2 separate regions of the Homo sapiens genome follow, and region 2 is linked to region 1. The links come from fine-mapping of genetic effects on gene expression. A gene starts in region 1. The other region holds a variant in brackets. All regions are shown on one strand. Distances are between the middles of the regions. Region 1 holds the start of PYGB (glycogen phosphorylase B). Region 2 overlaps PYGB (glycogen phosphorylase B).

Region 1 (15,374 bases):
GATGAAGCGTCAACAGGAATTACAAGAAATCTCTGTATTATTCTTGCAACTTTTTAAGGGTCTGAAATCACATAAAGTTTAAAAGGAAATATGGCTGAGATGTGGAGGTGAGGTCGGTTACCTTATTTTATTTTATTTTATTTTATTTTATTTTATTTAGGCAGAGTTGCCCAGGCTGGAGTGCAATGGCGCAGTCTTGGCTCCCTGGTTCAAGCAATTCTCCTGTCTCAGCCTCCCGAATAGCTGGGACTGCAGATGTCCACCACCACGCCCGGCTAATTTTTGTATTTTTAATAGAGACCAGGTTTCACCATATTGGTCAGGCTGGTCTCGAACTTTTGACCTCAGGTGATCCACCTGCCTCAGCCTCCCAAAGTGCTGGGATTACAGGTGTGAGTCACCACGCCCGGCCATATTTTATAAAGCCACCACGGCCCCTGTGGATTAGTCAGGGTTCTCCAGAGACACAGAACAGTAAGGTATGTGTAGAGAGAGACAGATTTAAGAAATTGGCTCAAGTGATTCTGAAGTGCAAGGCCACAACCTACAGAGTGGGGTGGGCCAGCAGGCTGGAGACCCAGGCAAGCTGCAGCTCTGGTGCAAGGTAGCTGGTGGCAGGGTTTGTTCTGCAAGGCCTTCCCCCATGGGAGGCTGTGAAACTGTGATGTAATGAGATATACTTATTTGTTCTTCCTGGCCTGTGCTCCTAACACCCTTGTAATTTCCTAAGTGATAAGAGCAATAAAAATGAAAGAAGTGTCTTTTGTTATTCATAACAAGTCCCTTTCAACCACGCCTGATGTGGTCACCAAAAGGTGACTTTTGGCAAGCCCCTCAGGGCAGAGGCTGGCTGCCAGGGGAACCAGCTCTAATTAGAGGGTTGGAAGTTTCAGGCCCACCCCTCCCGCCAGCCCCAACCTCCAGTGAAGGGAGAGGGGCTAAAGGCTGAGCTCATCACCAATGGCCAATAATCACACTAGGTAACTGCGGCCTCCATAAAATCCCCAACTGAAGGGGATGGAAGAGCTTCCTTCCAGTTCAGTGAATCCTGGAGGTGCTGGGACAGTGGCACCTGCAGAGGGAATGGAAGCCCCTGCACCCTCCCTCAGACCTGCCCTCTGCATATCTTCTATCTGGCTGTTCCTGGGTTGTATTCCTTGTAAGTAATTGGTAAACGCAAGTGAAGTGTTTCCCTGAGTTTCATGAGCCATTCTGGCAAATCATCAAACCTGAGGAGGCTGTCGGTCAGAGGTCAGAAGGGAGGTCCTGATGTGCAACTGACATCTGGGGTGGAGAAGTCTTGTGGGACTGAGCCTTTAGCCTGTGGGATCCGAGGCTACATCTAGGTAGACAGCATCAGAACGGAACTGAATTGTAAGATGCTCAGTCAGTGTGGGAAACACCACCCCCCGACCCCCCCAGAGGGACATCCACGTTACTATCTAGGCACAACAGCCAAGTTGACACATAAAACCAGCCACCACAGCCTGCAAGGGCAGAGGCCAGGCTGTCTTCTGCAGAAAATGAAGGCACACACTGTAGGCTTCTCCATCTGCTAAAATGACAGCTGAGGCCTACCTTCCAAGTGGCTAGCTGTCAGCAACACAAAACAGCACCCACCATCAGCTACTGGTCAGAGAAAATGACTTTGAGCGATCTGCTGTCAGGGAAGCCTGCCCAGGAGATGCAAGCTCAACTTCACACATAAAAGTGGAAATACATCAGAAAAATTGGGAGTGTTAGGATTCCGGAGGCTGGTACCACAACTGACTAATTAAAACAAATCCCAGAAGTGGGGATCACAGAGCAGAAGGGTCTGCAAAACACTTCTCTAGATCATCTTCTTTAACTCCTGGGTCCAGCCAAACCAAAAGATTAATCGTATTTCATTGTGTTTATCTCATTAGGAATATTTAGGACAGCAGTGTGGGCCCCAAGGTAGAGCTGCTTTTCCTTAATCTGTGTTGTAGTCATGCCAGGAGCTTATGGGAAGAGTCTCAAAAACTGATTGTTACATCCACTGCAGGGGTGCTGCAGGTCAGTGGCTCAGCACATCGACAACACAGCTTCACAAAGGCCCACAGAATAAACCGTGCAACTGTCCTTTCAGGATGTTATAGAAGGGATCCCGTGACTCTCATAACTGGGCATGGGCTGCTTTCACTGCCAGGATCCTGGTCTGTGTTTTGTGTCCTGACCCTCACTGTCCCACCCCAACCCTCACTCTGAGGCCTTCTAATGTGAACCTTTTGTGCTGTATCTAGCATAAGCATCCTCAAATTCTCTCTGGATAGAGATGGAATGTCAATTCAATATGAAATAGAAACATTTTAACTCTAACATTTCAGAATGGCAACAGACTTCGGAAACATCACCAGCTTGATTCCCCTCATTTTAAAGATGAGAAAACTGAGGCCAATAATGGCAAAGAAATCCGCCCAAGCCCACAGTTGCACAGACCGAATGGAAAGGCCAGGATGAAAAGGAGCGTGGAATCACGCACACCCTTTCTTCTCCATGCAGCGCAATCCCAGGCTCTGCAGCTTCAGGTTGGACTCTCCTTGCCACCTTGCCACCACTTCAGAGAATCCATTAAATGTCTTCATGACCAACCGCCACCTCTTGCCAAGCACAAAGCTCTCCATGTTAGCCAGATGTTTTGACGTGCTGATTTGCCAAGCATGGCAAAGCTTGACAAATCTTCCTCTGAACACCCCAACTTCTACTCTTTCGCTATGTACCACAAATAAAGTGCTAAGAGTTATGAAACAATAGGTTCAGTATAATGTTATTTTATGTATTAAAAACAAGTTTCTGCCAATACGGAAAAAACAATGTAGAACACAAAATATTTACAGCACAAAGTGGGCGATAGAAGTGGGTTACAGGATTACAGTTAATTTTTTTCCTTCTGGCTTATCTATATTTTCTAATTTTTCCTCCAGTAATAATTTTTCCTTCAGGACTTGCATAATTTAAAAAAAGACAAAAATAACAATAAAAGCGTTCTATTTAGGAGCTCTAGAGTGTCACATTACCACAGTCTGCAGTGTGCCGGTGAATGTCTGAGGTCATTTCTGGCTGAGGGGGAGGCACAGCAGTTATTTTCTTGGGAGCACACCTCCTCTCATTGGCTCTGGTGGGACTGGTTGCTGGTCCATCACCAGCAAGCATGTAACTTTTCCAAAGAAAGGATTGCAAGCTTATTTTCATCATGAATTAGCGAAAGAAGCAGTTAAATCCCAATTTTCCATGTCCTTCCTATTCAGAATAGGCACACAGCTTATTTACACACTGTGAGATCTAAAAGTTTACAACTTTACGACTTACAGACTGTGCGGTTTAAGAGAAAGGTTTCCACCCAGAGCCACCACACGTAGACAATCAAAAGAGATCTCACGGAGGATCAAAAAACCTGTTTTGTTGCAGGGACTATCTTGTTCATGAAGGTCATTTCCGTAATCCCTGAGCCCATCGCTGGCCTCTCCAGGATGTGATTATACATAAATACTCCAATGGGCACCCTAAGGTGTAGAGCTGAGTCCTGGTCCAGCTCCAAGGAAATGCCCTTGAATGTGAAGGCAGAGCTATGTCCTTGCCATCCGCCACTTAGACAATAAAAATGATGTTGCGGGTCGGGTGCGTTGGCTCACGCCTGTAACTCCTGCACTTTGGGAGGCCGAGGCGGGCGGATCACGAGGTCAGGAGTTTGAGACCAGCCTGGCCAACATGGTGAAACCCCGTCTCTACTAAAGATACAAAAAATTAGCCGGGCGTGGTGGTAGGCGCCTGTAATCCCAGCTACTTGGGAGGCTAAGGCAGGAGAATTGCTTGAACCCGGGAGGCGGAGGTTGCACTGAGCCGAGATCGCGCCACTGCACTCTAGCTTCACGCTACAGGGCAAGACTCAGAATTAAAAAAAAAAAAAAAATGGTGCTGTGCATCAGAACTCTCCCAACAGCAGGGAATTCTGGGGGAGCCACTGCTTCTTGGCTGCTTTTCCTGGCAAAGTCATCCCAAGCCCTTGTTATAACCTGTTTTGGCCATTCGTTGCCACTTCTATGTTTTGCATACCAAATATGAAGAGCCCCAGTTGGTATTCTAACAAATCTGTCCCTTTTACCATCTCCATTTTAGAAAAAAGAATGTCCCAGAATAAGTTTGGAAAAGCAGTCAATCTCTTAGCAATTACCGTATTAAACATATCTTAATGCCCTACAAAAATATTCTAAAATACCATCCATAAAGCAAGTGCTCACTGCCTAGATGTACACTGCAAGTAAAATCTTTGCCAAGTGGCTTCAGGTCTGGAAGTGTGTCTTTTCCTCACCAGTTCTCCCTCTACGTTAGTGTAGTAGAAAGACAATTCTCCATGGTCAAGAGTTTAAAAGCAAACGACAACAACAAAAAACTGGCAACAGGGGGCTGTGCAAGACTACCATGTACCTATCAAACTGAAAACTACCATCCTATCCATTGACCTGCAAAGCTGTTTATCAGTGAAAAAGTTACAAATGTTTACGAATGAAACAGAAAATCTAAAAAACTGTATGTGCATTATACTTTTTAAAAATGTGTATGTATATTTAGGAATACCAAAAACACAGCAAGAACACAGGCCCATAGTAAACATGGTTAAGAGTAACGGGGACAATCAGTGACTTTGTTTCACTACTCAAACAAATTTTTGCAAGATATAAAAAGTAACAATTAGTAAGATGATCTCTGTCAACTTCAACCCAAGCAAATTTCTCCAAGGGAGGTGTGGGAACCTCTAAGACAGAGCCTTCTTCGAGGGCTCCATCTCCATCTCTGAGCTTCGTACCCCTCCCTGCGTGAAGCAGGCATCTTCAGTGATTTTCTTCTAAGCAGCGTACACAAAAAAAAGTCTCACAATTCCCTGCAGATTACCGAGCTCACCCCATTCCAACCCACAAGGCTGCCCAGGCCTGGTTCCAGTCCCATTTTCTCCCACAGGCTGCTGCAGGAAAACAAAGAGTGGCTGGAGGCAGGGGCGGGGAGCACCGGCTCTGCAGCCAGCGCGGAAGCGCACGGCCAGAAAGAGACCGGGAACGTCCGCCAGGCTCCCGGGCTCAGCATCATCTGCGGGGGACGGCGGACCCCGCCAGGCGCGGGCTCCCAGTGGGGCGGACCCGTGGCCGCGGCCCTGCGCAGGGGACGCCCGGGCCCCGCCGACTGCGGCTTCCAGGCGACTCCCCAGTCGGCTGTGCCTGGCCGCCGGCCGGCTAGGGGCGCAGGTAACGCCCGACGGGCCGCCCCGCAGAGACCCCCGCTGGCGCGGCTCCGGGACCGGCGCCCTCTCAGCGGGCACGGGCGCACAGGGCGGGGCAGCGCCTCACCTTGGGGTCGCGCTCGTAGTAGTGCTGCTGCGTGCGGATCCAGCGGCCCACGAGGTGGTCGCGCACCGTGTGCGCCAGCGCGAAGAAGTAGTCGCGGGGCGTGGCCACATTGCGGTCCTTGACCAGCGTGAAGTGCAAGTGCCGGTTGAAGCTCTTCCGCACCTCGGCCACGTCGCCTAGCCCCGCCAGGCCGCGCACGCTGATCTGCTTCCGCTTCTCGCTGTCCGTCAGCGGCTTCGCCATCGCGCCGGCGGAGGCGGAGGAAAAGAGATGGAGGAGGAAAGCGGCGGCACACGCGAACGCCGGGATGGTGCAGCTGCTCTGGCGCCGCTGCTCTGGCGCCCGGCACTGCGGCTCTGCGGGCGGGATGGACCGCGCCTGCGCGCCGCGCCGGGGCGGGGCCTCGGGGGGCGGGGCGGGGCCTCGGGAGGGCGGGGCGGGCGTCCAGGCTCATAGCTGAGATCTCTGGTGTAGTCCGAGGCGGCAGCGACCTGTCCACGCCACCTGAGCGTGGTGTTTGCCCCCTCGTTGGGCAAGCCCGGCAGAAAGTGGGAGCGACTGGAGGGGGCAAGGGACCCGGGGCCTCGGAGCGTGCCGTCGTGGCCGCTCCTGCCAGCCCGGGGACGGTGCGGGAAGGGGGCCCTGCCCTCCGGCCCTCGGGTTCCTGGGACCGGCCCTCCCGCCCTGCACCGGGTCACCAGGTGCCCCGCGGGAGCGCGCTGGGCTCGGGCTGTGGCCGAGACCTGGTACACGTTCGGGGAAACTGATTACAGCTTGAAAGGCATCCACCAACGCCTGCTGGGCCCGGTCTTCTCTGTCCGGGGCAGGGCGGCTCTGAAAATACCAGCTATTTGCTTGCCACTCCAGGCCGATGACAGACGTGGAGAAAACCAGCTGCCAGCGAGCTGGAGACGCCCGTTCCCGAGGGCGCGAGGCAGCCACAGCCAAATGCCACCACGACCCCGCCTCGGAGGGACCGCAGCCCCCTAGCCCTCGGAGAAACCCTGTTCCCGAAACCACCTGGCAGACGCTGTCCGCTTTGAGATTACAGCAGGGAGAAGGAAACATGCCCGTCTGGCCGGGGAGCTCAGCCACTAACCGAGACTTAGCCTCTGTCATCCCAATCCAGGCTGCAGCTCCAGATAGGGGGCGTCTGCACACAGCTTCCCACACTTGGCCCCGCGGAACACAGTCCTGCTGGCCTCAGCCTGTGGGAACCCTGCTTCATGTAAAGGTCACCTAAACTCTGCCTTCCCTCAACCCCTTCAAACTCTGCCTTTCCCTTCGTTCTTGGGAGGCGCTCCCTCATTGCAGTGGGTCAGTACACCCGATTTTGTGGACCACAGGTTTGCTCCTGGTGGTCTTGGGCTGAAGGGGCTGCAAAGGTTACTGAATTTCGTGGAGGTAAAAATTGCCCGCAGGAAATGTCATGAAAGTCCAGGTGCAGTAGGTTTCCTGGTGTGATGCTTCAAAGTTATCTTCTTACCTGGAGCCCCTTCCAGCTGCAGACTTCAGAGGTCGGAGGTTAATCAATCTGGAATGACCCCACAGCCCACCCAGCTCCAGCTCGGGATTCACTCCTGCACTATGTCCTAGGGATTCTGGAGCCAACAAGATCGAACTTCGGGCACAGATGGCAGGGCTGTGGGGTCGAGCTTGGCTGCAAGCTCCGAACACTGATGCAATCTCTCTGAGGGTGATCTGGCAATTCAGAAGTCATAAAAATGATAGTGCCCTATGACCACTTCTACCACTCTGGGGAATTGAGTTCAAGGAAAGCTTAAGAAGACAAAAAGCAAGTTATGCAAATATGTTATCTGCTGTGGTGTGGTAAAGTTTAATCCCCCAGCTGTGGTGCACACCTGGCAAAGAATGGAGGCGCTGACACTTATTGATCATTACTTGCAGTGTACACGTATTAACTCCTGATCCCTGCAAATAGCCTGCTATTACCCCCGCTTGACAATGGAGAAGGTGAGCCACAGAGAAGTTAACTCTTCCCTAAGCCCACACAGCTAATAAGGGAAACAGCCAAGGTTCACCCCAGCCAAGCCCTGCTCCACTGCACAAGCCCAGAAAAATGTATCTGTGCTCAAAGTTAATATCATAAACCATTGTGCTGCTAAAAGGAATGACTGTTTTAATAGCTAGCTAGGAAGGTGTGATTGATGACACAATACTGATAAATGAAACACAAAAATAAGGATGTAATGCAGAAATGACAGTAATGATTTGAATATTACTTTCATTTAGTCAATTTAAATTTAAATTAAATAACCACATGTGGCTAGGGACTACTGTGTTAGAAACACAGGTGTATATCCAAACCTAAACACTGGTTATTTCTGAATGGAAGAATTATCAGGGGGGTTATCTTATTTTCTCCATACATTTTGTATTTCCTGTTTTTTCCACAATATTTCTTTTGTAAGTGGAGTAAGTTTTAGTAAGAAAAACTAGAGGCCACAGACTTCACTAATGGATGCTGATTTAAGGCCTATATATTCTCTTACTGGATTGACTTTTAATTCTTTGTTACTCTGGTTAAATAAATTTTAAGTCCTTTCTTTCATAGCTACACTTTATTAAATTTTCCATGATCCTGACAAAAATTCTTTGACCAAACTCTAGTCAGGCTTCTGAGCCTTGTAGGGCCATCATACACTTCCCTGTGACATCTGTTTTAGCAATCCCTGCTTTGTCAATTTAGCAGGATTCCCTGCCCCTGATGTCTGATCCCCCTTGGTGACATCTGATCAGGCTCCCCATGCTCCACCATCCCCCATGCTGTCCAATCACCCTGGCCTGCCTTCAACAGGAATCCTATGAGGTGGTTTAGACACAATCACCTGGACCCCTGAAGTGTCCTCTTAGTAACTGTCCATCCACTGACCCCTCCCCCAGTCCTTGGCTATAAATGCCCACTTGCCCATGCTGTTTTCGGAGTTGAGCCCAATCTCTCTCCCCTGCTGCAAGATCCCGTTGCAGTGGTCCCTGTACCTATCATGATGGTTGTGAATAAAGTCTGGTACCATGCTTTAACAAATGCTATTGATTATTTTTTTTCTTTAACAGTTATCTTACCCAGATGTCATTTCCTCTTCCTGGGAGCTGCCATGGTCCTTCCCCTCTCCTGCAGCACTTAGTCCAATACTGAATCTTCATGATGTGACTCTTCATAATGCGCATGGTTGACGCAGGAAGGAGCCCTCTCACCATCATGTCTCCTCACCTCCTCTGGCCGCTAATATTGCTGAAGTGGCTAAATGAGTCCCAGTATTAATTATCTCAGCCATTTTCAGGTAATTTATTTATTTATTTATTATTAATGTTTTTGAGATGGAGTCTTGCTCTGTCACCCAGGCTGGAGTGCAGTGGTGCAATCTCCGCTCACTGCAACCTCCGCCTCCTGGGTTCAAGCAATTCTCCTGCCTCAGCCTCCCATGTAGCTGGGATTATAGGCACTCACTACCATGCCCAGCTAATTTTTGTATTTTTAGTGGAGACAGGATTTCACCATGTTTCTGGGCTGGTCTTTAACTCCTGACCTCAGGTGATCCGCCCGCCTCAGCCCCCCAAAGTGCTGGGATTACAGGCGTAAGCCACCGCACCTGGCCATCATTTTCAAATAAATAATTTTTAGATAGTTTTAAGTGTTGTAAAGAAAAGCAGGTTGAGCTGTTAGTTACAGGAGGTGATATCTCAGCTGAGACTAAAAAAAAAAAATGAAAGAATGGACCAGGTGCAGTGGCTCACACCTGTAATCTCAGCACTTTGGGAGGCCAGGGTGGGTGGATCACTTGAAGTCACGAGTTCAAGACCGGCCTGGCCAACATGATGAAACCCCGTCTCTACCAAAAATACAAAAGTTAGCTGGGCGTGGTGGCGCATGCCTGTAATCCCAGCACTTGGGAGTCTGAGGTATGAGAATCGCTTGAACCCGGAGGTGGAGGTTGCAGTGAGCCGAGATTGCAGTCTGGGCGACAGGGCAAGACTCCATCTAAAAAAAAAAAAAGGCATGAATGAATCTGGGGGAATAGCAAATGCAAAGGTCCTGAGGTGGGCATCCACTTGGACAGTTCACAAAAGAGGCATCTGAGGGGCATTGGGATACACCACCCCAAAATATGCCTCTTCGCATGTGGATTATTTTGAATTAAAGGCCATTAAGAACCAGCAGACCACAGGAAAGGCTCTAAAAACCATTTTCATTTTGTAAAAAAAATTCACATTTATTATAAAGGAAATTTCCACGTCTCCCTCTTCCATGCAAGGAAGAGGATATCTTGTAACAACTCTTATCAGTGGAAGAAAGTACTGACTTAAGTCTGCATAACAAACCTTCCTAAACAACCCTTGTTTACCATACTTTTCCTGGGCACCTTCTGCTGAGGTTTGAATATACCCTCCAAAACTCATGTTGAAATTTAATTGCCATTGTATAAGAGGTAGGACTGTTCAGAGGTGATTAGGCCATGAGGCCTCCACCCTCAAGGATAGATTAATGCCATTGTGGGAGTGGGTTGTTATAAAAATGAGTTTGACCCTCTCTTGTTCTGTCTCTTTCACCCTCTCTTGTACTTCCACCCTCCTTCCATGGGACAATGTAGCATAAAGGCCCTCACCAGATGCCAATGCCATGCTCTTGGACTTCCCAGTCTTCAGAACCATGAGCCAGATAAGCCACTTTTCTTTATAAATTACACAGTCTGTGGCATTCTGTTACAGCAGCACAAATAGACCAAGACACCTTCCCACTACATGCCTCCCCTGCCCAGAAGCTCCAGGCCTTTTCCTTTATGTCAGCCTAAGATGATAGATGAACCCAAGTCCTGACCACACTTTGGGTTATTCATTGCCAGGTACTGCCACATGTAAGTGCAATGCACATGCCAATAAACTTGTTTTTTTCTTGCCTGATTGAATTGTCTTTGGCTGGTGTAATTAGAGGCCCCCTAGCTGGAGACCCTAACATGGGCTGGGGAAAAGATTTTTTTCCTTCTGTAAATAACCAAGAGTTGGATTCAGCTTCATCTTCCATTTTAGCAACAAAACTGCCAGGCTTCAGAACAGGCAAAATGGAAAGAAATTGGGCTATGCTTTTATTTTATATAAAGCTGAAAAGCAGTTTTGCCCTTCTAAGAGAAAGGATTGTTCTGGCAGCCTGGATCAGAGCAGTGATCAGGCCAGAGCATCTGCTAACCTCAGCATCAGGGAATCCCTGTTTTAGACTGTCCTCTACGTCTCTGTCTTCTCCTTTTGGGAGGTAATTTTTAAAAAATCACTAAGAAGGGATGGATGCTGGTTCTGGTTTCGTTACTGTTGTAGGGAGCTATTCTGTGTTGCTGGAGATAATACATTACCTTTAAAGTTCTTTTATCTTTTTGTTTTTGAGACAGGGTTTCATGGTGTTGCCCAGGCTGGAATGCCATGGTGTGATCACGGCTCACTGCAGCCTCGATCTCCCAGGCTCAGGTTATCCTCCCACCCCAGCCTCCCAAGTAGTTGGAACTACAGGTGCATGCCACCACGCCCAGCTAATTTTTGTATTTATTATAGAGATGAGCTTTCTCTATGTTGCCTAGGCTGGTCTTGAACTCATAGGCTCAAGCCATCCACCCAACTCGGTCTCCCTAAAGTGTTGGGATTACAGGCATGAGCCACTGTGCCCAGCCTGAAGTTCTTTAAATAGGTATTTAAGATTCTGTCTGTAGCAAGTCCCCTGTCATCTGCCTCAGAAAAAGAGATGAAAGATGTCTTGTGAATGGAAGAAGATGCTGTGGGACTTAGAAGCGGGGTGTGGAAAACAGACATTTTTGGTCGGCTAGGCTTAAGCTTCTTGAGGACCTGAAGAGTGTCTCATTGATCGCTGGTGAAATGAGTGACTCAGAAGCACCGCCGGCCCTTGAGACCGCAGGTGCGGAGGGAAAATCTCTCTGGGATCCCAGCAACGCCACTGGCAGATCTGTGCTGGTCAATTTCGTGTTTGCAAATGAACACAGACCCAGGCTTTCAGGAAACAGAGATAAATAACAAATGCATTATTTTTGAGAGGCTGGTAATTATAAAGCTCGAGGGAATAAAGAGCCCACCAGCTGGAATGACACTGTGGAACTGATGCCCTCCCTCCACTGGGGTGTGTCAACAGATATTCTTAGTGACATTAATGATTTTAACACACTGACATTAAAGGAAAAAGAATCTATTGAAGGGCTGGGTTGCCCCTCCACACCTGTGGGTATTTCTCGTTAGGTGGAACGAGAGACTTGGAAAAGAAAAAGACACAGAGACAAAGTATAGAGAAAGAAATAAGGGGGCCCAGGGGACCAGCGTTCAGCATATGGAGGATCCTGCCAGCCTCTGAGTTCCCTTAGTATTTATTGATCATTATTGGGTGTTTCTCGGAGAGGGGGATGTGGCAGGGTCACAGGATAATAGTGGAGAGAAGGTCAGCAGATAAACACATGAACAAAGGTCTCTGCATCATAGACAAGGTAAAGAATTAAGTGCTGTGCTTTAGATATGCATACACATAAACATCTCAATGTCTTACAGAGCAGTATTGTTGCCCGCATGTCCCACCTCCAGCCCTAAGGCAGTTTACCCCATCTCAGTAGATGGAACATACAATCGGGTTTTATACCGAGACATTCCATTGCCCAGGGAGGGGCAGGAGACAGATGCCTTCCTCTTGTCTCAACTGCAAAGAAGCATTCCTTCCTCTTTTACTAATCCTCCTCAGCACAGACCCTTTATGGGCGTCGGGCTGGGGGACGGTCAGGTCTTTCCCTTCCCACGAGGCCATATTTCAGACTATCACATGGGGAGAAACTTTGGACAATACCTGACTTTCCTAGGTGGACGTCCCTGCGGCGGCCTTCCGCAGTGTTTGTGTCCCTGGGTACTTGAGATTAGGGAGTGGTGATGACTCTTAATGAGCATGCTGCCTTCAAGCATCTGTTTAACAAAGCACATCTTACACAGCCCTTAATCCATTTAACCCTGAGTTGACACAGCACATGTTTCAGAGAGCATAGGGTTGGGGGTAAGGTTATAGATTAACAGCATCTCAAGGCAGAAGAATTTTTCTTAGTACAGAACAAAATGGAGTCTCCTATGTCTACTTCTTTCTACACAGACACAGTAACAATCTGATCTCTCTTTCTTTTCCCCACAATCTATGAGACCAGAGTGATACTGAGAAGAAATGAAATGGAGATAGGGAAGAAGGAAGCCGCTCCTCTCTACAGGATGCCAAATCAATGCAGGAGGAGATTCTGAGAACTACTGGACAACGGCCACAGGGGAACAGGGGATTCATTCCATCTCAAAGCCTCACCCTACACATTATCTTTATTAGCTATAAAAGGGAAAAGGGATTTGCAATGGAGAGTTATGGCAGACTCCAGCCTCATGAAGTGACACAACTTAGCATTGCCACCCAGGGGACAAACCCACACTATGAGTCTGATTCAGTGCACCAAGAAGGACAAACATCACTTACTCTGCTATAACATAACGCAGTATATTATACACTAACATATGTAGTATATTACATTACATAATAACATAGTACAGGCTTCTAGGACACAGTTTATAGAAGTGCAGATAATACTTGAGGCAGTTTCCCAAACTTGCAAATAAAAACTCTCCACAGGGCTTGTGACTAGCACATTCCCAAAGCCCCAAACCCAGAATTCCACCTGCTTAGTGAGCACCTCCAGAGCACTTTTTTTTTTTTTTTTTTTTGAGACGGAGTTTTGCTCTTGTTGCCCAGGCTGGAGTGCAATGGCAGGATCTCGGCTCACTGCAACCTCCACCTCCCAGGTTCAAGCGATTCTCGTGCCTCAGCCTCCTGAGCAGCTGGGATTACAGGCACCCACCTAATTTTTGTATTTTTAGTAGAGATGGAGTTTCACCATGTTGGTCAGGCTGGTCTTGAACTCCCAACCTCAGGTGATCCACCCACCTTGGCCTCCCAAAGTGCTAGGATTACAGGCACGAGCCACTGCGCTCGGCCATCTCTAGGGCATATTTTTACTGTGCAATGTGGGAATCTCTGCCATAGGGTGGGCTGCCTTTCTAACCCAGTGGCCCGGTTCTAGCAGGACTTCCCCAGTATGTGGATGGGGGCACAGGGACTCTTGGGGGGGCCTCAAGGCATCTGTGAGCTAGGCCTAACCACCGCTACTGAATGACTGCGAGATGAGTCCCAGAGCTGGGACGAGAGTGGGCCTGGTACCCTGCCCCAGCCCTCCCCTGACAGGAGTTAGTAAGGGACAGGTTAGCATGCTAAAGAGATAGCAAGCTGGTCACAGCCTAGGGCCACCACCCTTCTGTCTTACAAGTCAGAAACATGTCCTGACTTTGGGGGAGAGGGTATATGTTAAACGGGCCCACCCTGGGAGCTGTAGTGGTCACTGTGGAGCTGAGCACTGGGCTGCACTCCTCGCTGCCCCAGAGTGACCAGGTGGGTGGTTTCATCCAAGAGGCAGGGCTCAGAAGGCCAGGCTGAGCCACCGATATGCATGTCTGCACCCCACCACTTCCTGCTCAGTCTGTATCAGGCCCGGGATGAAATCGTCACTTAGACGCTCAGGGGTCCTCCCACCCATCTGGCCAACACAAACCTGCCAGCATAGCACTGAGTGGAAGGTTCCAGTGCACCCACAGGCCTGGCTGTTAAAATGTCCGGCCTCTCCAGAGGACAGGTTAAGTTCACACTGAGAAAGCCTGGCTCTCTCCAGCTAGCCTGAATTAAAGTGAGAAGGATGAGCACAGCACCTGTGGAAATGGCGCTGGAAAGCAAGTGTACCTAGGAACTGCCTCTGGGCCACCGAAGTGCGCCGGCCCAGTGTTCTCAGACAACCCAGGAGGAGTCCTCCATCTGGCCACTTCCCACCCGTTAGGCCCCGAGGGGACACCAGGTTGGTGAGACCCGGACCCCACCAGCAAAGGACCCTTCCTTCATTCATCACACACTGGCTCCATCTGCACTGCACCTACTGCCAGCCAGGCACTGAGCTTCACATCCGCACAAAACACAAAGACCTCTGATACGGTTTGGGTCTGTGTTCCCACCTAAACCTCGTGGTGAATTGTGATTATGTTGAGTTGTTTTGGAGGTAGGGCCTGGTGAGAAGTGACTCGATGATGGGGTGGATTTCTCATGAATGGTTTAGCACCATCTCCTTGATGCTGTTCTTAAGATAGTGAGTTTTCACGAAATCTGGTTGTTTAAAAGTGTGCGCCCCACCCCTTGCTTCTGCTCTGGCCATGTGATCTGCCTGCCTTCCCCTTCGCCTTCCACCATGATTGTAAGATTCCTGAGGCCTCCCCAGAGGCTGAGCAGATATCGGTACTACGCTTGCTATACAGCCTGCAGAACTATGAGCCAATTAAACCTCTTTTCTTTATAAATTACCCAGTCTCAAGTATTTAGAGCAATGCAAAAATGGACTACTACAACCTCACGGTTCTGGAGGCTGAAAAGTCTAAGGATGGAGTGTCCTTCTCAGTGTGCAGTCAAGATGCCGGCAGGTTTGGGGCCTGGTGAGGCTCTTTGCTTCTTCCATGGTGTCTTTTGCACGGTGCGTCCTCCGGAGGGGAGGAAGGCTGCATGCTTACATGGCAGAAGGTGAAAAGCCAAGAGAGAACCCACTCCCAAAGCCCTCTCAGTAAGGCATTAAACCCACCATAAGGGTGCAGCTCTCATGGCTTAATCGCCTCTTAAAGGCGCCACCTCCCAATACCATTACACCAGCAATCGAAATTCAACACGAGTTCTGGAGGGGAAGGCATTCAAACCCTTGCCCCTTCTCTGAACCGGTGGGACTTGCCCAGCATGCCAGACTGCCTGGGCTCTGACTCCTTCCTCAGCCTGTGTCACTACGGCCCACAGTTGCATCAAAGCATGCTGCTCTCCATCTCCAGACTCCCAGCCTGGCATTTCCAATATTCTCCCCTTTCACAGCCCCTCAAATCCAAATCCTACAGCAAATGCCGGAGATTCTA
Region 2 (15,374 bases), 44 kb before region 1:
TTTCAGTTGCTAAAACAAGAAAAGGCTTCAGCTAGTTTCATTTCCATGTGTAGTTATTTTCTCTTTTGAATAAGCAAAACCAAGCTAAGCTGTGTCAGCCAACTTCATCCTGACCAAGGCCTCTGAGACAGCAGACACAAGCACCCACTCCAGTGTCCCCCTCAGTCATCCCGGGTTCCAAGCACCCACACAATGCCCATTGGATGGCTACAAAGGGAAAGCCCCATCTGGGTCCATGACCCATATACCAGGTGCAGAGCCAGGACAGAGGGCAGGGGGCAGGGGGCTGTGAAGGCGATGCCTAGAGGATCCGACCCCTCCCGGCATGGCCAGGAGGCAGGGCTGGGCAGGATGACTGGGGCTACATGGGGCTTGGCCCTTCCCTGTGGCTGGCAGCCCAGATGCTGCAGTAACACTCATTCCCAGGCTTCACTATGGCCACTGGCCCAGACCCCAGAATCCAGAGGCTCAACACTAAAGACATCGGCTAATACATAGCAAGATGTGTGCAAAGTTCTGGGGGAGCCCAGCAGGTGGCTCCACCTGACTCCCACTCTGGGTGGGGCAGGTGCTGAAGCTGCAGGGCTGGCCACGACCCTTTGTACTGTCAACTCTGGCTTCCTTTACAAGAAACTAGGAGCACTTCTAGCACATTCCTTCCTTACCCTGCTCTCTCAAAACCACCCTGACCCCCATGGCCCCTCCTGGAAACATGGTACTCAGAAAAGCAGGGACCACCAGTGGCTGGCAAAGTGTTTGGGGAAAAAAGGAGGTGCAAAGTCAGCAAGAAAACAAATGCCCGCTGGTCCCGCCAAGGCAGGGTGTGCCTAGTCCCGGGGGATGTTGGGGGGCGGGATCTGCAGGTCGGAGGGCTCCACACCCCAGATCTCCCGTGCATACTCCGTGATGGTCCGGTCACTGGAGAACTTGCCCGAGCAGGCGATGTTCCTGATGACCTTCTTGGTCCACTCCTTGGGGTTCTGCAGGGAAGGAGATGAAATTAGTCTCTGGCGTCACAGGGCTTGGGGCTGCTAAAAACATGGGATTCCAGAACTTTAGGACTGTTTCCAAATGAGCTCCGAGCCTTGGGGCCATCCGCTGGAAGAGGAGGACATTACAATCACTTGTTCGTTGAAAAGGGGACCCCACGGACCAGGAAAGCTACCGCATTCTAGATCTAGGGAGCAAGGAGCTGGAGAGAAGGTCCCAGCCTCGAAAATTCCTGCTAGGGCATGGCCCCCAGGACGACGATAGGGATAGCACCAGGTAAGAACTGCCCAGGCAGATCCAGTGCCAGGGGACATGCCCAGGCAGTCTCCTTCCACCAGGGAGCCTCACAGCTGCCACAAGCTGCAGGTCACACCAGGCCAGCCTTTCCTCGAGGCCAGCCCTGACTGAGGGAAGAGAAGGTCCCTCCCAGGGCCCTGCCCGTCACTCAGTTTCCAGGCCGCACATTCCTTTCTTGGCCATTAGGAGCTGTTTTTTTCAACGGAGGGAGTGACATTGACAGTGACAGCTTCCCTAAAGGCAGGCACAGCCGACTGATGACAGATCAGAATCACAAACCCCTCTGGCCCAGGCCAAGAATCTACTCAGCTTGGGAAATAAACAATCTGACCCAACACGTCTACATGGACCCACCCAGCTGCTCCCCTAGCCTCTGGACCCAGGAGCCTCACCCGGTACAGCTGGTCCACCTGTGCCTGGCACTGCATGTAGGCTTCATAGTCTGCAAACACCTTGAACCTGGAATGGGAGAAAGGAGGCTGGGCCAGGGCAGCAGGGAGCCCTGCCCACACTGTCCCGAGGGGAGAGTCCCAGGGCAGGAGGCCAGGCACCATCCACCTGGTCCTGTCTGGAGCGAAGGGGCCCACCCACGCAGCTGGTCAGAGCCAGGCTGCACCAGGCCCATTTGGCCACAGGGCTTCTCTGTGAGCAACACTTATGTCCTGGGACAATATTTTAGAAAAACCTTATTTCAACCCAACACTCCTTTAAATAAACTGGCATTTAAAACGTGTCTTCCACACGCAGGGCAGTTAGAGCTGCACATGGGAGAGGCCTCCTGGGCAGACAGTGGAGAGCCCATGGCGCCGCCTCAGGGCAGGGGGCACTTGCTGGGGAACGGCATCTCCATTTGCCGTCTTAAGTCTAACTGGGATTTGCCTACACAGGAAATACTGACTTGCAGTTCCTGATGTGCTGAACAAAAATGCCAGATTTATGAATCTACAAATGCATTTCTGTTCACTATCGAGTCAGAAGCACACTTCACGAAATGCAGAGTTCACAATTTTAAAAGCACTTCCTTTATCACAGACCTCAGCAGGGCCCAGGTTCCAGCCCAGATCCCAGCATGTGGTCAGAGCTGGTGTGACTGAAGCCAACAGGTGACACGGTCATCGAAGAGCAGCAGACAAAACTAAAACTAACCCAAAGGCAGCTGAAAGTGGAGGGCAGGTGAATTCCCAGCCCTCGCCGGATTCAACTTTTGCCAACGGTGAAGAACTGCCCTGAGCTGCAAACCTTACAAAGTCTGTAACTCTAGATAAACCATACCATGTGCTAACTGCACTGAAATAAAACACTAACTACATTATAATGTCACATCGTTGCAAGTGAAATCCATTTTCACCACTGCCTGTCACTGGCACTGACGCCTGCCGCGGTTCCGCAGCCCTTGTGCGCCCCCTACCCCACCCCAGGGAGTTTTGGGCCCATGCTCCCTCTACTGGCCTGCTGGGACACGGCTGCCCCTGGGACCTCCAACCAGCAGAGGACACCCCCTCCTGCTCAGCACATTGGTCCACAAGGCCTGGGGGCTGGACTGTGCTGCTGTGTCTCGCTGCCCAGGGCCCCCTGGCATTGCCAGAGGCCATCGCAAACTCCCAGCTGGGGTCTAAGGCTCTGCCCAGTAAGGTCTCATGGGCACAGTGGAGAAGACGTCCTGAAAGCACGGGTTTTGCTCTCCAAACAAGGTGGAATATCCAACCCACGAAGAGGACCCCTCCCTCCCTCCCTCCCTCCCAGCCACCCAACCAGGGAAGTCGGTCCCACCTGTCATGGTGCATCAGCATGTTCACGATGTCCTTGAAGCAGTCTGGCTCCTTGGGAGAAAAAAAGCCACTGCTGATCTGGTCCACGGCCTGCTTCAGCTCGGGCAGGTGGTCGTAGTACTCCCTGGCATTGTACCTGTGAGGCGATGGGCCAGGAGTCAGCAGCCAGCGCCCCAGGTGGGCCACCTTGGAGAACAAGCCATGTTGGTGCCTGGCACAGCCCCTGCCCCAGGATGGCCCTGGGAGCTCAAGGCCTGCACGGTCCAGGGCAGCAGCCAGTGGCCATGGGTGGTTACGAGGCCCTTGAGCAGGGACCTGCTCGAGCAGAGATGTGAAGTCAGTCTAAAGCCAATCCCACCTGCTCCTTTGACTGTTAAAGAAATGTCATCACTAGCAGATCTGCTAGGACATAGTGGCTGATGCCACATTCCTAGTGGAGAGGGCCACTCAGAACTTGGCTCACTGTGAAATCCTGGGCAGAGCTTTTGAAAAACAGACGGCCGGAGGGGCAGGAAGTGAAATGGAGCACCTTGGCTGGGACCTCGAAGATGGAAAAGGAAAAACGCAAGCAAGACCAGACAGGACAAGGCAGAGCTAAGTGGGAGAGGGACGGACGGGCAGACATGGGCATCCCAGGACGGGGCCCGGGCAGAAGAAGCTGTGTGAGGGCGCAGAAAGGGAGCACAGGCCTCTGTGCTCGGGCCAGCAAGGCACAGCTCTGACTTCAGATGGCATGTGTGGTTTCACCTGACCCTACTTAAGGCCTCACAGGCTCCCCAGTGCTTCAAGGCAATCAGGCAACACTGCCTTTTCTTTGTAATTATCGCTTGGAATCAGGCCCGTGCTGGATTCCTCATGACGTCCAGATCATGAAGAACAAGGAAAAACTGAGAAGCTGTCACAGACCAAATGACACTGGGGAGACCTGACGGCCACACACAGTGGAGTGCCCTGATGGGATCCTGGGATGGGAAAGACAGTAACAGAACCCCGGTGGAGTTGGAATGGAGTGTGGGCTGCAGGAGGGCCAGTGCTCTGAGCTCAGTGCAGCCAACGGAGGGGCGCGGGGATAAGGTGGATGAAGCTCTGGGTGCTGTCTTCAGGATTCCCTCCTCCCCTCTGCCACCCCCCAACCCCCCCATCCCCCCCACTCCCCCACCCCCCCCGACCCTGGCCTACACATTTAAAATGTTTCCAAAATACTATTTTTAAACAATTTTAACAGTTACAACTTAGACCAGGGAACCTCAACAGCAGGCAAGCCCCAAATCAGCAGAGTGCTCCCGGCAGAGCGCCCCTGGCAGTGGGGTCCTGCCCAGCCCCAGCCCATTTCTGTGGGGCTGCCTGTGCCCAGGGGGTGTCCCTCTAGGAGACCCTCCCCAGGGGAAAAGGCCTTTCCTGGAGGAGGAGCCCCTGGTCTGGACTCCGCAGATTCAGCCTCAGAGCCGAGACAGGAGCAGCCCAGCACCCCCACGTGGGCCTCGCCCGCAGCCCGGACCCCGTCCATTCCATGCACCTGGAAATGGTCACCCCTGCAGGCAGGCACACAGCCCTGGGTGGGCACTGACCCTAGCACACAGTGGCCTGGCCCCAAGAGCCCAGTCCAGCCAATGCCCCCAGCCCAACACCCTTCATTCTCCATCCTCACGGTGCCAGGTGCCCAGGGGCACAGGCTCGCACCCTTTCCGGTCCAAGGCCTCGACATCCTCCACCCGCAGGCCGAAGATGAAGAGGTTCTCGGCCCCGGCCTCCTCGGCCATCTCCACGTTGGCGCCGTCCATGGTGCCGATGGTGAGGGCCCCGTTGAGCATGAACTTCATGTTGCCTGTGCCTGAGGCCTCGGTGCCTGCAGTGGAGATCTGCTGCGACAGATCAGCGGCCGGGATCACTGTGGAGGGGAGCCCGTGGAGGGGATCACTGTGAGGACCCCAATGTCCTCAGCCGCAAGGCTCACTGCAGGACAAGCCGGCCCATCCACCCGGGGCTGGGTCGTGGAGGGACCAATGCTGTGGCCCCGCTCCAGCCCCCACTCCCGCTCCCACAGGGGCCCAGGCTGGACACGGCCACCCGCCTCTGCAGGGCTCCCCTTCGTGACTGGGGCATCCTTGAGGCAGAAGGTCCAAGATGGGGGCTCCTCAGGAGCCAGGTGGCATAGGATCTGTGCACCAAAACCTTCCCCAAAACCAGGCCTAGCCAAGGAGCCAGTCCTGGCTCGCTGACAATGTCGTTCCCTGGATCACCGCGACCTTGATCAGCCCCAGCGGCTCCCTGGATCCTTTCAGGAGGAATGTAGACCAGAATAGAGCCAGAAGGCTGGAGCGGCTGAGGGGTGGCGACCTCCTGGGCGCCAGCAGCTGCCAGATGCCACGGCCCTGCGCTTTCTCTGTGCCTGTCCCTCAGGACTGGTCACCGCTCCCAGACACGCTGTGAGTGCACACACTGACTATACAACCTGCTCTCCACCCTCACCTCAGGCTGCAGCCCAGTCAGCCACAGCAACACTGCCGGGGAGAACGGGGCCCTGACGCCAGCACCGAGACTCCAGACCAGGTGCCTGAAGGCCTGCTCTAAAGATGAGCAGGAGTCAGCTGGCCCCAAAACACATAGGAGGAGGGGAGCCTCAGGCAGCACGGGGGAGAGGAGATGCTTCGGTCAGAGGAGCAGGGAAGGACGAGCCACAGTTCCTGGCCAAGCCGGAGGCAAGCCGGCCCGTGAGTGCCTCAAGGGACCTCGCCTGCCAGGCACCACTAAAGAGGGGGAGCGACATGGACACCAAGGCAGCAGCCAGGCCACAGGGACGGTGCCCAGGGATCCCCCCCTGCACCACGGAGCTTGCAGAACAACAGCAGATCAGCCCTCTCACCTGCGGCAGCCTGGGAAGCCCAGGCGGCCTGAACTAGGGGGGGCCCTTGGCCCTCGGCGGCAGGAGGGGAGCACGAGAAGGCCAGGCTCAGATCTCCCACCATCTGGTGGGCAAATCACTTTCCTGCCCAGTAGAGCCCACAGGGGTGGGAACTGATGGGCTCCAGGGCACATGGCAGCACATCCCAGGGTCTCCCCAGGACTGGCCCAGGCTGCCCTCAGGAAGCACAGATGAGGCAGGTGCTGCCACCTGAGATCACTGGTGGGCCCAAGAGCAGGCAGGCAGTGAGGAGCAAGGATGTGGGCGGAGGAGGGGCAGTGGAGTTGGGGGAAGCTGGGGGCCCACAACCCCACTGGCCTGGTGCATGTCCTGCCAGCAGAGGGGCCCAGGGCAGAAGACACGGCTGAGGGGCAGGAGGAGAGGGCAGGGGAGGGAGGGTACAGAGGGCAGGCCAGGCAGGTCCTGCCAGCAGAGGGGCCCAGGGCAGAAGGCACGGCTGAGGGGCAGGAGGAGAGGGCAGGGGAGGGAGGATACAGAGGGCAGGCCAGGCAGGCGCGGCAGTAAGGGTGCCCTGTTGGGGGATGACACTGCCTGTGACATGCAAGGCGCCCCGGGACGCACTGTGAGTCCTCCGCACTGCACGGGGAGCACTCCCTAAAGCCGTTCCCTGCTCGCCTGCAGCCCGGCTGGCTAGGTCTGGGTGTCCAGGCAGAGCTGAACTGGCTGAGGATGAAAGGCCCGGGGCCAGTACAACGCCCGTTCCCCGGCAGGAGTGAGTTTTCTGTCCAACACAGGCTTCCAGGGTTACCTTTCTCAGCCAAGGACACACGGTAGTTCTCCAGGAAGATCACTTTCAACCTGTCACCCACAACTGGGTCATGATTGACGACGTCGCCGATGGAGGTGACCAACTTGATGATCAGCTTGGCCATGTGGTAACCGGGCGCTGCCTGGAAGGAGAGGGTGAAGGTTTTTAGCACAAAAATGCCTTGTTCAGGCCCTTGGAGGCGCTCCTGGTTCCTGGGGTCTGTAGGGGGGTGAGGCTAGAGCCACAGGAACCTGCCGTCGGGACGGTCAGTAGAGGAGCTAGGGAGGCTCCCCGGCCCCAAGGCCCCAGCTCTGCTGCGCACTCACGATGGTGGCCACCTCGCCACATCCAGAAACGTGTCCGCCTCAAGTCTGGTTTTCTGGTTGTTGTTAGGTTTTCAGAAATTACAAGGTAAAAGAGACCAGGATTTCTAGAGCTGCCGACTGACAGGAAACAGAGAACTGTCCCTAGGGACATACTGGGACACACTGGAGGGACACATTCGGAAAGAGCCAGGCTACGGCGGACAGACAACCCGATGTCTGTAACAGACAGACTGTGGGGAAAACCTACAGAGAACTGAGACACCACGGCCAGTCCAAGGTGAGGACTCACTGGGCCCTCACTCAGACCAACTTTTAGAAATGTCTGTTACTTTACAAAGACAACTGGGCAGGGGACCCATGAAGTACCCGAGTGAACATTTCAGGACACGGAGGACTCCTGTCCAATGCTTTAGGTGTGACGGATGGTGGTACTGTGTGGTGATGTTTCAGTCTACTCCCATTGTGGTTCTGGTGGAAAACATCATTTTATGAAAAGGAATGCTGACGTATGTAAGAGTGAAGAGCTAGAGTGTCTGCAGTTTACTGTGAAATGCTTCAGCTAGTCTGGGTGACAGGTTTATGGTTTTGCTACAATTCTTCCTGCTTTTCTCCAGGTTCAAATGTTTCCTTCTTTTTTTTTTCTTTTTTTTGCTGAGACAGGGTCTGGCTCTGCTGCCCACACTGGAGTGCAGTAGTGCAATCACAGCTCACTATAGCCTCAATCACCCAGGACAATCGATCCTCCTACTCAGCCTCCCAAGTAACTGGGACTACAGACATGAACCACCACGCCCAGCTAATTTTTGCACTTTTTTGTAGAGATGGGGTTTCACCACACTGCTCAGGCTGGTCTCGAACTCCTGGGCTCATGCGATCCACCCGCCTTGGCTCCCAAAGTGCTGGGATTACAGACGTGAGACACCGTGCCCAGCCTAAAATTTTCATAATAACATTTAAAACTTTTTCGAACTCCGTATCTCTATGGACTTTACATACTGAAATACTGACAAATAAAATGACACAATTCCAAAATTTGCTTCAAAAACAGCAGGTGACAGGAGTGGACAGAGACCAAATGGGGTGTGCCAGGAGGTGGCGGAGCCCAGAGGAGTGCCCACCCCTCTGACCAGCTTCCCACTCGCTGAAGGCAGCAAGAGGGCAGCCTTCAGGCTGCACACAGGCACCAGCACCCCCAGGCCCCGGCCTTGCCGTGGAGGGCTGGGGTGCCTCACACAGTCCAGACTCACTTAGGGCCACTGCTCCAGCAGGACCCTCCTAAGGACGCTGCACCCCACAGCAGCCTCACAGTTCTGGATAAAGACCAAGCTACTAGGGAAACATGGCAGGAGGTGGGGACACTGGCCGCAGAGGGCTGATGAGTGTGACGATGTGACCTGGGACTCGATGACAGCACATCTAGGACTCTGAAAGTATGTGTCATAGTAAATAAAGTGAACTGAAACCAGGCAATGCTCAGGGCATGTGCAGGTGATGAAGCAGCCACAACGCCCTGTGCCCACTGGGCACAAAGAGAAAGGACACTGCCCTCTCTGAGGTGGGCACCAGCAAGCCCACTGGGGACTGGCCCTCTAGGCTGGGGACCCCTCCAGTGAGCTGGGCAGGCAGGAGGCTTCCATCCCATTCTGACTCTCTACAGGGTCCCCACCCCCACAGGCATACCAGAGGGGCCGGTGACCGCTGGGCATCCGGTTCCCGAGTATGGATGTGGTGGCACCATGAGAAGCGTGCAGGCTGCCCACCCACTATCCCCAGACCAAACACCACAGAGAGGACTGCAGAGGAAGTCACTCACCTTGCCCCCAATCATAACAGTCCTGGGCACAAAAGCCTTGGCCGGGTCTCTCTTGATTCCTGCAGGACACACGGAAGAGACTCACACAAGGCACCGCGAGCCGGACGAGCCCCTGCTGGGGCCCAGCAGCATCAGAGGCCGACCCTGAGGCAGGACAGGCACGCTCCGCCATGTACTTCAAGCCCCAGAGACACGGGTGACAGTGGCACAGGGCCACTGGCCACCCACCTGCCCAC[C/G]CACCAGGAACCTGCCACTTACAAGGGAGTGAGGCCACCCTGAGGTCTGCACTTAGGTTCCCCGCTGGTGAGGAAGGCCAGCCAGGACCATGGACGAACCCAGCAGCTGACTCGAGCAAAGATGCTATTCCCCGGGGCTCAGAGGAAAAGCTGCACCTCAGTTTCCAGAAAAGCCCAACACAGGAGCCTCCTTGGGTCTGGTCACCAGTGTTCAAGGCCCCTGTACATGAAGGGCACACTTGTGGGTTTTGTTTGGTTTTGTTTCTTGAGACAGCAGCTCACTCTGTCGCCCAGGCTGGAGTGCGGTGGTGTAAGCGTAGCTCACTGCAGCCTCTACCTTCCAGGTTCAAGCAATCCTCCCACCTCAGCCTCCTGAGTAGCTGGGATCCTAGGCACGTGCCACTGCGCCCAGCTAATTTTTTAATTTTTTGTAGAGATGAGGGTTTCTCTACATTGCCCAGGCTGGTTTCAAACTCCCACGCTCAAGCAACCCTTCCGCCTCAGCCTCCCAAAGTGCAGGGATTATAGGCGTGAGCTACCGCGCCTCGCACTCTACCACTCTTGGGTTTTTTTTGTTGTTGTTTGTTTTTGTTTTTAAGAGTTAAGGTTTAGCTCTGCCACCCAGGCTGGAGTACTGTGGTGTAATCCGGGTTCACAGCAGCCACAGACTCCTGGACTCAAGTGATCTTCCCCTCCTTAGCCTCCCAAGTAGATGCGACTACAGGCACCGACAGGTTACCACATGCAGCTAATTTTTTCACTTTTAGTACAGATGGGGTTTCACTTTTTTGCCCAGACCAGTCTCAAACTCCTGGCATCAAACAGTCATCAGGCCTCAGCCTCCCAAATCACTGGGATTACAGGGGTGAGCCACCACACTGGCCTTAAATTGTGTTTTAAACACATTGTTTGGATGACACAAAGAAAAAGTGGCAACCTCAGCCTTGTGGCTGTGGTGCCATCAGCCTGCAGGGGCGCTGGGTGAGACCTTGTGTCTCCCCTCTGCCTCACTGGGACAGCGGGTGAGGGCCCCCAAAGTTCTTCACAGAAGTGGATGGAGGGTCAAGCCATGACGGCCGGCTCACTGCCAGCCCAGCAAACAGGCTGTCCTCGCCAGGTCATTTGTTTGCAGATTTCACGGGAGGTTCCTACAAAAAGGGGATGAGCGGCCACCCTGGACAGGCGTTCACCAGCGAGCCGGGCCTGGGTGAGGCAGCAGGGAGTCGGGCTGATGTGTACCACCCAGCCCCAGGCTCCAGGAGGAATGCAGCTGCCCCTTAAATGCTGGATCTTGTCACTTCTGGAAATCAGCAGAGAACAGGAAAAACGAAACACACAAGTGATGATTTCACCACAACTAGGAAAGAAGGAAACCATGCAAACCCCAGGTCACAGTGGGCAGGGGACAGGGTCATGGGAGTCCTAACCTCTGGGGAGGGGCACTCTGGGCAGAGAGCTCCAGTCCTGGGGGCCACCAAGGAGCCCCCGGGGAACAGCAGGTTTGGGCAAGCGCCTCTCCCACAAGGGCACCCTCACAAGGCAGGTCCTGGCCTCCAGAGGAGCCTCCCGCCCAGGTGAGACCCGGAGAGACAGCAGAGGCGCAGCCACAGGCTGGGGAAGCATGGCCTTGGCCCAGCAGAGGAGCTGCCTTGGAGGGCTGAGAAGCCTATTCCGAATAGCCCCAGGTGATCCAGCTCACACCAACGTAGCAATGGAAGTCAGCACCCAGCCCCGCCACAGGCCACAGGAGGGGAGTGAACCCCTTCGCAAATCACATACCCTTGGTGACCACCAACTTGGAAAGACATGGAGCCAAATGCCAAGTCCTCAGGGAGGGGGGCAGAGAGCAGAGGAGAGGAGCAGAGGGCACGGGAGGAGAGTGCAGCCGGCAGAGACTCCAGAGAGCAGTGCCACTCCACAGGACAAGGACAAACCAAGTCCTGAGAGAAGTAGGCACCAAGGAAGAAGGCCAGAGAAAGCCACCTCACGCCACACTGCAGCCCAGAAGCAGAAAACCAAACAGAACCAAACACACGTTTCAAACAGACAACTTCCCTGAAGTCCAGCAACACGTTCAACAAGCACCCGGAGTATTGGCGAAAATGCCCTGTAACGGCCAACACCAAGACACGGCAATGACAGTGAGTCACTGATGAGATCGAGAACTCAGACATCGCCAGACTTCTGCACACACACCCACCCTCCAGACAGTGCCCGGTAGGGCCCTAAAAAGCACTGGGGGAAGGAAGTGGAGTTAAGACTGGCATCTTCAGCCAAACCGACCTTCATGGTGAAGGGTCCAGGCCGTTTTGAACAAGCAAGAACTCGGGAAGGTTGTTCCCATGAGCCAGTCATGAACTAGACACAAAGTGGCCAGCAGGGCTGGGCAGCACTTTGCAGAAGGACCGTGAGAAGCAGTGAACATACTCACCACCAGACTCAAACTGATACAGCTGGGGACAGGAGGAAGGGCAAAGTATTGATGCTGTGAGCTCTGACAGTGGGGGAAGGAGACGCAGGTCCACCACAGGTACATGCACAGACACAAGCACACATGTTTACAGGCATGCACACATATACATTTATGCGTGCACACACAGACATGGAGCAAGGGGGAAGACCAGTGGGAGCGAGCACCAGCCTGTTGGCTGCCTCCTGTGAACGGCTGGAAATCACAGCGTGTCGTTCAAAACGAATGAACCAACCAAGCAGAAGTGGAGCATCTGGAAAGCCTGAAGGCCAACAATAGAAGACGATGCAACAACTGACGACTGGGGGTGGCGGAGCGGGAGGAGGAAAGCCTGAAGGCCAACACTAAAAGACGATGCAGCAACTGACTGTGGGGGTGGTGGAGCGGGAGGAAGGGAGGGGGTGACCCGCGAGTCTCACTGCCGCTCATCAATAGGACCAAGCGTTGTGCAAGCGGAGGACTCCGGGTCACCACCAGGGGAACACAGAGCATCACAACTGCAGGAGGAAAATGGGGCAAGGAAAGATGATGCAAAGTTCCCGTGCACCATCTCGGAGCCGGGAAGCCACAGCCCCGGGAAGCACCTCCCGTGGTGCCCACACGGCAGAGGGGTCCTCAGCGGGGGTGGCCTCTAGCCTCTGTCCTACCATGTGTGTCTCAAACGCACCCAGATCCTCCACCCCATCGAGGCTTACTCATTGGGAATAGGAGATCTATTCCCGGGAGGAGCTTTGTATCGGAAAGGAGGATGTGTGGTTCCTTTGGTTTTTAAAATACCTACTTTATTAAATTACAAAATTTTAGAAACCTAGTTTTTCCTTAAGGTTTCATTATCTATTAAACCTAGCAAATATTCACATTGACCTTTGGGGGTCTCTGTTTCATGTTTGTCTCATAATTAAATGTCCTTAGACATATAAGATGCATGTGTAAATTTAACACATACTATCTTAATTTTTGTAAGTATACTTTAAATGCCTCTAATAAGCATAATCTTTCTAAATAAGATTAGTCTCACAAAGATAATAACTAAATTTAAAATAAAAACTGAAGGCCCGGTACAGTGGCTCATGCCTATAACCCCAGCCTTTTGGGAGGCAGAAGTGGGTAGATCACTTGAGGCCAGGAGTTCGAGACCAGCCTTGGCAACATAGTGAAACCCTGTCTCTACAAAAAATACAAGGGCATAGTGGCGTGCGCCTGTAGTCCCAGCTACTTGGGGGACTGAGGTGGGAGGATTTCCTGGGCCCTTGGAGGTCAAGACTGCAGTGAGCCGTGATGGCACCACTGCACTCCAGCCTGGGCCTTTCGGGTGTCTAACTGTTCACCTGCTCACGTGAGGCCTGGCATGGGGCACACAGAAAAACATGGCTTTTGCTTAAAATAAACGTGCCACATCACACATGCACACGCCTATACACACACAGCCCCCACCATGACAGAGGCCCAGGGTCTGTGCACAGCTGGCGGGCAAGGGCAAGCCTTGGGCCCCACAGCGCGGTCATGCAGGTGATGCCGGCACTCACGATTGTACAGGGTGACGACGTGCAGGCAGTTGAGCAGCTGCCGCTTGTACTCGTGGATCCTCTTCACATGCACATCGAACATGGAGGAGGGGTTGATCTTCACCTTGTACTCCTTCTCCAGGAAGGCCGAGAACTTGAGCTTGTTCTCCTGGGAGGGTGAAAGGGAAAGATGGCTGGAGACTTCACCAGGACTCCATCCACTGACCCTGCGGCTTCCTGCTTCAAGTGCCCTGTGAAGAGTGCCGCAGGGAGGGGGCAGGGGTATACAGGCTGGAGCTGAGGGGCAGAGATTGCACCAGGGGTCTTCTCATGGGAAAAGGGGAGAGGGGGATGCTGAAGGTGGGTCCACACCAAGAGTAGGGGATAAGTGAGGAGCCGGCCCAGGAGCACGCCTGGAGCCAAGCAGAAGACACTGCAGAGCCAGGCGTGCAGGCGGCGGAGCAGCGCGGGAGCGGGACGGCTGAAAGGACTACAAGGAGAACTAGTTCTGGCCTCTATGAGGAGGCCAAGCTCGACAGGCTGTGTAGATGGGCCTCCAGCCCGCTGAGGTTTGAAGGCTGCCGTGACTGGCCCTGGTCTAGCCGAGAGGCTGCTGCCGGTGCAGACAGCTCGTGCACCTGCACAGCTCTCCAGGGGCAAAGAGGGTACCACGCTGGAATCGGCTTCTAGAGGCTTCCATACAGAACTGACCTGTGGCAGAGGGTCGAGGCACGGGCAGGGCTGGCCTGGGGTCTGCACTCACCTATCTGCCATGTGACCTGTCCTCCTCGGGGCCCTCATCTGAAAGGCTGAGTGGGGTGGAGAGACCTCAGGCAACCCTAACAGCCTCACCCTCAGTCCTGTTCTGAGTCCCCACTAAAGCCCCAGTGGGTACCCCAGGACCTGTGCTGGGCCTGTAGGAGGGCTAGGGCCAGGGCCTACCTGCCTGGTTGTGGGAGGGCTGGGGTCGGGGCTGGGGCCAGGGCCATGCCTACCTGTTTGACCTTGGCCACGTCCCTGATGAACACCTCGTCACTGACCAGCGGCAGCAGCTTCTTCAGCTGGCTCAGGTCAGTCAGGAACTCCTCCCCAATTTTCTGGAGAACGTAAAGGTTCCGCTCACTGTGGGCCTCAGCCTCCTGAGGCTGGGCCCCCTAGCCACCTGCCCTCCTCCCATTGTTGCCCACGCCCCTGCTTTCCCCTGGGATCTGCTTGTCCGGCCCCTCCGGGCATCCCACCTCTCAGGCCACAGGGTTACCCCAGCAGCCCCTCCTTCCTCTTCTGAGAGGGCTCTGCGAGATGGCCCAGTCCCACCAGTTCAAACGTCCACAGGAAACACACGACCCTCCCTCAGCCACCGATCCCAGGGTTCTCTGACATTGAACATCCCATCACCACCCAAAACCCAAAGCCATCCTCCCGCTGCCCTCCACCAGCACCTTCCCTGCCTGAAGCAGGCGGTCCCCTCAAAGCCAGCACCTCACCCAGGTGCTGCCTGCAAACACTCGGCCACCTCTCCTCACTGTACCCAGGCCCATCTCAGACTGCACAGGAGCCACGCTGCTTTCCAGGTCCCAGGGGCCCGTCCCCCAGCACAGGGCATTGAACCAGTTTGCCCCAGAGCACTGCTCACTCTCTCTTCATTCCCTCTTCAGACCTCAGCTTTCCTGGGAAGGCTTCCCTGACCATAGCCCCAGGTGGGCGGTCCCACCCTCCCAGCGGCTGGTCCTTGCCTGTAGCGCAGGGCCTGACACCTCAGCACTCATTTCCTCAGGGAGCTTGCATAGGAGCCAACATACAAACAGGAAATAGGTGCCCAGCCTAGCTGGCAGTCAGCTGCCTCTTGACTCTTTTGCAGTGGCCCCGTGGCTGCACTCAGCCACACCCCAGCCCTCCCTAAAGCTCGGCTTCTGAACTCGCACACAGGACCCGCCAGGCCCAATGGGTGACTGCCCAGCTCAGCGCCCATGTTCAGGGGCTCAGCCCTCATGTCCAGAAGCCTGCAGGTCAACACGTGAGGGACAGACTCCTGCCTACTCAGCAACCGCTCAGCAGGGGCTGATGACATGGCCCGCGGTTCTCAGCCCAGGCATCTCCACAGGCACGGGTGGGGCCCGGGACTCACCTCCACGATGGTATCGGCCAGCCCCGGGTTGCACAGCAGCAGCCACCGGCGGGGGGTGATGCCATTGGTCTTATTCTGGAACTTCTCTGGCTCCAGTTCATAAAAATCCTTAAAGCTGCAAACACAGAGAACAGGGAACTGTCACAAATGCTGTGCCCTGCACCAGGTGAGC

The links.
Region 2: its variant is fine-mapped to the expression of PYGB in aorta (GTEx, PIP 0.92).

Annotation. Positions count from the first base shown.
Region 1 is chr20:25,238,408-25,253,781 of GRCh38, reverse strand. It overlaps PYGB (glycogen phosphorylase B), which reads right to left and starts at 5,697. Exons shown (of 20, transcript NM_002862.4): 1 at 5,361-5,697. The coding sequence starts at 5,603. LOC105372579 (a long non-coding RNA gene) reads left to right here and starts at 9,316. Exons shown (of 3, transcript XR_001754564.3): 1 at 9,316-15,374. RefSeq lists silencers at 5,054-5,433, 5,744-5,933, 5,944-6,133, 6,314-6,393, 6,412-6,665 and enhancers at 5,584-5,663, 11,346-11,963, 15,155-15,374.
Region 2 is chr20:25,281,976-25,297,349 of GRCh38, reverse strand. PYGB (glycogen phosphorylase B) reads right to left here. Exons shown (of 20, transcript NM_002862.4): 12 at 15,203-15,317; 13 at 14,073-14,174; 14 at 13,099-13,246; 15 at 8,867-8,925; 16 at 6,728-6,869; 17 at 4,737-4,944; 18 at 3,058-3,192; 19 at 1,680-1,746; 20 at 1-980. The coding sequence ends at 828. It also overlaps a transcript of ABHD12 not described here. Among named protein-coding and RNA genes, the nearest start is that of PYGB, 42 kb to the right of the region's middle. RefSeq lists enhancers at 1,181-1,702, 2,748-3,270. The variant C/G (reference allele first, on the strand shown) is at 9,103.